Homo sapiens: one gene and its partner. The protein of the gene in region 2 interacts with the protein of the main gene of each other region in a pairwise test. Each region holds a gene or a part of one and is shown on either strand. Other genes may lie near its edges.

The links.
Region 1: the proteins of ARHGAP9 (region 2) and ABI3 interact in binary tests that used the Homo sapiens proteins (3 or more experiments, as listed by UniProt).

Annotation. Positions count from the first base shown.
Region 1 is NC_000017.11:49,217,207-49,220,706, forward strand, and holds part of ABI3 (ABI gene family member 3), read left to right. Parts: intron 1-532; coding exon 533-709; intron 710-2,333; coding exon 2,334-2,419; intron 2,420-2,651; coding exon 2,652-2,747; intron 2,748-2,962; coding exon 2,963-3,120; intron 3,121-3,500. UniProt on the Homo sapiens protein: May inhibit tumor metastasis. In vitro, reduces cell motility.
Region 2 is NC_000012.12:57,471,575-57,474,543, reverse strand, and holds the end of ARHGAP9 (rho GTPase-activating protein 9), read left to right. Parts: intron 1-67; coding exon 68-121; intron 122-367; coding exon 368-502; intron 503-835; coding exon 836-941; intron 942-1,855; coding exon 1,856-2,027; 3' UTR 2,028-2,275; downstream 2,276-2,969. Other genes in the region: zinc finger protein GLI1, read right to left, coding at 2,483-2,969. UniProt on the Homo sapiens protein: GTPase activator for the Rho-type GTPases by converting them to an inactive GDP-bound state. Has a substantial GAP activity toward CDC42 and RAC1 and less toward RHOA. Has a role in regulating adhesion of hematopoietic cells to the extracellular matrix.

The DNA of each region.
Region 1 (3,500 bases), on a different chromosome or scaffold from region 2:
ACATTTGGCCTGGCCTGTACATCACCCACATGTTCAGTGGGTGGGGTGTGTCTTTTCCTCCCCCGCCGCAGACCAGAGTTCCCACCCTTTCGAACTGTAGGCTTTCTCCATGGAACATTCTGAGAGGAAGTCAATTTACTTATTTGTCCCCCAAAGGGGAGAGCTGATCCAGCCACCATTCTCTGCCACCTCCATATTCTCCCCCTCTGCTCCGAAGTCAGCCGGGTGCTTGTCTCCTCCCAGCATCCCTAGGGATGTTGTGTTTTCTCTTTTCCTCCTGTTCCTGCACAGCTAATAATAACCCATACTCTCTTTCCACCAGGAAGTTGCTCCAAAGTGGCTCCATCCTTTCCTGCTACTTTTCCCAATTGCTATGTAGCCTGGTGGGGGGCGGGGGGCGGGGGGCAGGGCCCTCTTTTTCTAGACCTGGCTGCCTCCCCCCCCCAGCCCAGTCTTTATCTTCTTCCTCCTTAGGGGGAAGGGTGCTGGACACAGACCACCCCTCTCTGTCACCTTGAACCCTGTCATGCAGATGGTGAACATGCATATGGAGAAGGTGGCCCGAAGGGAGATCGGCACCTTAGCCACTGTCCAGCGGCTGCCCCCCGGCCAGAAGGTCATCGCCCCAGAGAACCTACCCCCTCTCACGCCCTACTGCAGGAGACCCCTCAACTTTGGCTGCCTGGACGACATTGGCCATGGGATCAAGGTAGAGAGAGGGGCCCTCCTCTTTCCCTCCAACCCACCCTCTCGTGCCTTGTGGCCCCTTTCCCTCCAGAACCCCAGTTCTGCAAGTTTTGTCCCCACTTGCCACTCCTTTCTTTCCCCGCTCCCTGAAACCACCACTCTGAGCTCTTCTCCCTCTCCCTAGATTTTGTAATCCCTCCCTCCAAAACTGGTCTGTACCATCCTCGGAGGATCTGCTGAGTGTGAGATCCTGAGCACCCCTCGCCCCCCCGCCCTGCCCCTGTGGGCACCGGGCGTGTGGGAAGGGGAAGAGGGGGAAGGGAGGATGTCAGGGTGTGCATGAGAATGGCTCCCAGCCACATGAGAACAGCAACTTCCTCTGTCTGGGGGTTTGAGGTCACTGCACTGAGCAGTCACCCCAGAGCTGCTGTTGGTGAGAAGAAGCGGGGATACAGCCACACAAAGGGGACTTGGTGAAGGGAGGGGAGCATGGCGCTGGCGTCTTCTCAGCCTATGTCCTTCTGCGAGGTCAGAAAGGGCACGCACTCACACCCGTCCCACCTTCAATTCCTGTCTCCACACCTTAACATTTCTGTATCAAAATGAGCCCCTTGATATCCTTAACTTATCAGCCCCCCTTAAAGGGGAAACGACATTCTCCCCTTCAACCACCAGGCCTCCTTCCCACCAGTAGTTCTCTGTTGTCCAACTTATATTTTTTTTTTTTGAGATGGAGTTTCGCTCTTGTTGTCCAGGTTGGAGTGCAATGGCACGATCTTGGCTCACTGCAACTTCCGCCTCCCAGGTTCAAGTGATTCTCCTGCCTCAGCCTCCCAAGTAGCTGGGATTACAGGCGCCCGCCACCATGCCCGGCTAATTTTTTTTTTTTTTTTTTGTATTTTTAGTAGAGATAGGGTTTCTCCATGGTGGCCAGGCTGGTCTTGAACTCCTGAACTCAGGTGATCCTCTTGCCTGAGCCACCCAAAGTTCTGGGATTACAGGTGTGAGCCACCACTCGCGGCCCAACTTATATTCTTTGTGCTTCAGCTCAAATCTCTTTTGTCTTGCCCCTGGTGAAGCCCATGGGGTAACACTGTACCCACCCCTTGGGGAAGTCCCATTGGTAACAGCAGTTCCCTCTTTCATGTAGGCGTGCACCCTGTCATTTGCGCATCCCCTCTAAGTGGCCTGGGTCTTGCTCCTCTCTGCCCTAACTCCCCAAAGCCAGTTCCACAAATCTTCGAAAATGAAAGGTGGGACACTTCTAAGTGTGATGTGTCCTCTCCTTTCTCCGCCCCCTCCTCAGCCCGATCAAAGTTAGGGACCACCAAGCCAGGGCCCCAGCTTCCTGGGCTCTGAGATGGTCTGGGGGAGGGACAGGGGTGCTGGGCCCACTCAACCCGCTGTGGCTGTGCAGAGGAAGTGGCTGTGGGCTTTGGTAGAACTGAGTCCCAGAACCCAGGCAATGACAAGGGGGTGGGGTGGGGGAAGTGTAGGAGAGGGGCCTGAGAAGTGGAAGTGGGAACTGGCTATGCCGGGCTCTCCCTCCCGGTTCCCGTCCGCCCCTCCTCCATTTCCTCTTGGGGATGAGGGTGGAGGGAGGCCCCTCACCCCAAATGTAAGCCCTACCTCCCGCTCCCTCGCAGGACCTCAGCACGCAGCTGTCAAGAACAGGCACCCTGTCTCGAAAGAGCATCAAGGCCCCTGCCACACCCGCCTCCGCCACCTTGGGGTGAGGCCTCGCCGCGACGCCAACTAGCCTAGCCCTGCCCCGCGCGACCCTGAAACTCTCCTCCCCCAGCCTCGCCACCCACCCCTGGCGCCCCCGGGTGCTCAGGCCGTCATGCTGGATGCCTGGCGCCAAACCTCCCCCTCGGCCACCTGCCCTTCCTGCTCGCACCCGACCCCTGCTGGCCAGAAGCCTTCCTCCTTCCTCCTAATACCCACTCCCTGCCCCCCGCCAGGAGACCACCCCGGATTCCCGAGCCAGTGCACCTGCCGGTGGTGCCCGACGGCAGACTCTCCGCCGCCTCCTCTGCGTTTTCCCTGGCCTCGGCCGGGTGAGACCTACAAGCCCACGTGGGTGGGTGGGGGGTGGGAAGTGGCTTTTGAGAGGGGCCACCTGCCAGTGGTCATAGTGACTCCTGGGCTTGAAAGGACCCAGTTACTCCTGGGTCACACGTGCAGGGCTGGGGTCAGGATTGGAGGGGTGGGGCCAGTTGGGGATGCTGCATTAGGGAAGGCGTGTCCGCCAACCGGGCTCTCTGGTGTTCAGCAGCGCCGAAGGTGTCGGTGGGGCCCCCACGCCCAAGGGGCAGGCAGCACCTCCAGCCCCACCTCTCCCCAGCTCCTTGGACCCACCTCCTCCACCAGCAGCCGTCGAGGTGTTCCAGCGGCCTCCCACGCTGGAGGAGTTGTCCCCACCCCCACCGGGTAAGGAGGTCCACCCTCTTCTTCCCAACCGTGGGGTCGCTTTTCTGCCTCCTGCCACTCCCCAGCCCACCTCTCTTGGATCTGCCCCGGCCAGCCTCAGTGAATGCCTCCTCCAAGGAGCGCAGCACAGGGGCGAAAGGAGACAGAGGAAGTGAACTAACATAACTTAGCGCCTGCTGTATACCAGACCCTGTGTTCGAAGATTCTCATCCATTTTCTCATTTGAACTTAATCCTGGCCGGGCGCGGTGGCTCACCCCTGTAATCCCAGCAGTTTGGGTGGCCGAGGCGCGCGGATCACCTGAGGTCGGGAGTTCGAGACCAGCCTGACCAAAATGGAGAAATCCGGTCTCTACTAAAAATACAAAATTGACCGGGCGT
Region 2 (2,969 bases):
GAATAGAGAGGCCGTCAGGCTGGAAGTGTATGTCTTAGCTCCTGATCTCTCCTCATTCATGTTGCAGAGCGTGCGGTCACCTCCGATGGGAGGTATGTGTTCCCAGAACAGCCAGGACAAGGTACTTACATGGAAGACCCTTCAGATCCCTAAAACTTCCACATATCCTCTTTGCTTCCCGTGGAAACCCCCATGTACTATTCCTGGGAGGGTTGTCCTCATCCCCACCTTAGCTACCTTGCCCCACTGCAGACCCTCTAGGCATTCCTATAGTCTGCTTTGACTGGATTTCTCCAGAACTTCTAATCTCTCAGTCTCTAAATCTTTCTGGCCCTTCATGAGCCCCTATACCTCCTTCTCCCTCCAGAAGGTCGGTTAGATTTGGACAGTACTGAGTGGGATGACATTCATGTGGTCACCGGAGCCCTGAAGCTTTTTCTCCGGGAGCTGCCCCAGCCTCTGGTGCCACCACTGCTGCTGCCCCATTTCCGTGCTGCCCTTGGTAAGGGTTGGAGCTTTGGAAAGAACCCTTGATGTGGGGGACACGGGTGGTAAATAATAGAATAGAGGTTCCCTTATACTCTTCTTTCCCATTCTGACTTTAGAGATGGAAAATAATGTTCAACTCAGGTGCCTACTCCAGTTGCTTTTTTGTGAATGTTTAGAGGGCTGAATTGAAAAGAATTATGAGGCTATAGTTGGGCTATGTGAAAAAGAAAGCTGTGCTAGATTAATGATGTCTTCCATGCCTGTGGGAAAGAGCAGTGCATTTACCCATCCTGTCCTAGCACCTTCCCTAACCTTACTACCATGCCTTTCCCATCACTCTCTCTAGCACTCTCCGAATCAGAGCAGTGCCTCTCTCAGATACAAGAATTAATAGGCTCAATGCCAAAGCCCAACCATGACACTCTACGGTACCTCCTGGAGCATTTATGCAGGTCAGGAAGACAGAACCTCTTTGTTCATGCTGGGGAAAGGTGGAGTGGGGAATGCCACAGGGACTCTGTGCAGGTGGAGTGAAGGTAGGGAAGCACCTAAGTTTAATGGGCAGGTGAGGAAGCAGGCAACCTCTGTGCAGGAGCATATTACCAGAGTCAAAACCTTTATTTTTTTATTTTATTTATTTTTGAGACAGAGTCTCGCTCTGTCACCCAGACTGGAGTGCAGTGGCGCAATTTCAGCTCACTGCAACCTCTGCCTCCCGGGTTCAAGTAATTCTCCTGCCTCAGCCTCCTGAGTAACTGGGATTACAGGTGCCCGCCACCACGCCTGGCTAATTTTTGTATTTTTAGTAGAGACGGGGTTTCACCATGTTGGCCAGGCTGGTCTCGAACTCCTGACCTCAGGTGATTTACCCACCTCAGCCTCCCAAAGTGCTGGGATTACACCGTGCCCGTCAAAGACTTTAGGTCAAAACCTAAAGGTCAGCATCAAGTGGGGAAATGGAACCAAGATGCTGTGAAAGGAATAAGGGAAATCTTACTTCTCCCTTCCCTCTGCCTCTTTGTCTCCCATTGGGACATTGCTGATGGCTTCTTTGGTTGAACTGGGCCTGGGCAGTGACTTCTGAGAGAGGATGGCCACTTGAATTAAAGACTCCCAAACTGTGAGCAGGCAGAACTCTTGGGGCAGCCCCTGAAGTCGGAAGAGGCAGTTATATCTTCAGGTTGTATCCTGAAGGTTTCTCCACTGGTCCATCTCCATTCTCCTTGTATCTCCTTGGTTTTTTTGTTACCATGTGGAGGAATCCCAGAGTGAACTCTTCCCTGCTCAGAACTTTGAAGGGTTAGTTAGATTGCTATGAAGTGGCAAGCTGCTGCCATATATCCCCTTCCTTGGCCTTTGCTTACAGGGTGATAGCACACTCAGATAAGAATCGCATGACACCCCACAACCTGGGAATTGTGTTTGGACCAACCCTGTTTCGGCCAGAGCAGGAGACATCTGACCCAGCAGCCCATGCTCTCTACCCAGGGCAGCTGGTCCAGCTGATGCTCACCAACTTCACCAGCCTCTTCCCCTGATGCAGGGAAGGAAGAAGAGAAAACATATTTCCGGTCATCTCTGGTGGTGAGAGGCTGGTGTTCTGTTTTGAGGATATCCCTTTAAATCTCCCAAATGACTGTCTCTATCTTCATGAGTGTGACTTGAGGTGTTGGGATGGGTGAGGGAGCTTCTCTAAAGAGGAAAGTGAGTGGATTAACCCCTGCTTCTCTTCTTGTTCCCTGTTATCATTCCTCCCCAACATAATAATACATAAAGTGGCATGGTATTTTTTCTGATGCAGTTCCTTTATTATCAGGAAACAGTGTCATTATCAAATTTCTCCTCAAAACGTATACAGACTATACATAGCCCCCAGCCCATACCTCCCATCCCTGGGGCATCTTGTGCATGGGACTGCAGCTCCCCCAATTTTTCTGGAAGGATAGAAACCCCTTAGGAAATGCGATCTGTGATGGATGAGATTCCCTACTCTTTAGGCACTAGAGTTGAGGAATTCTGTTTCCCCAGGTAGGGATCTCAGTAAGACACTCATGTTGCCCACAGCCATGTTGGGGGGCCCAGAGGGAGGTGGGGTATGTCCAGAGCTGCCCCGCTGATCATGGGAAGGAGGAGGACTCAGCCCCTGGGGCTCATCCAGAATAGCCACAAAGTCCAGCTGAGTGTTGTCAAGATCAAGAGAGTCCAGGGGGTTACATACCTGTCCTTCGGGAGGAGGGTACAAGGCAGGACCCCCTCCTAGCCTGCCCACCTCAGGATGACCACAGCTGGGGTTTGTGCCTCCCACTTTGAGAGGCCCATAGCAAGTGGGCAATGGGGGCAGAAGTCGAGGTGGTGCTGCTGCCCTATGTGAAGCCCTATTTGCCCCCACTACAAAATTTTCATGGCATGGTGAAGGGGTGGGATAGGAACCTGACTTGTGATTGGGCAAGTTGGGTCCAAAGCCAGGTCCATATGTGTTC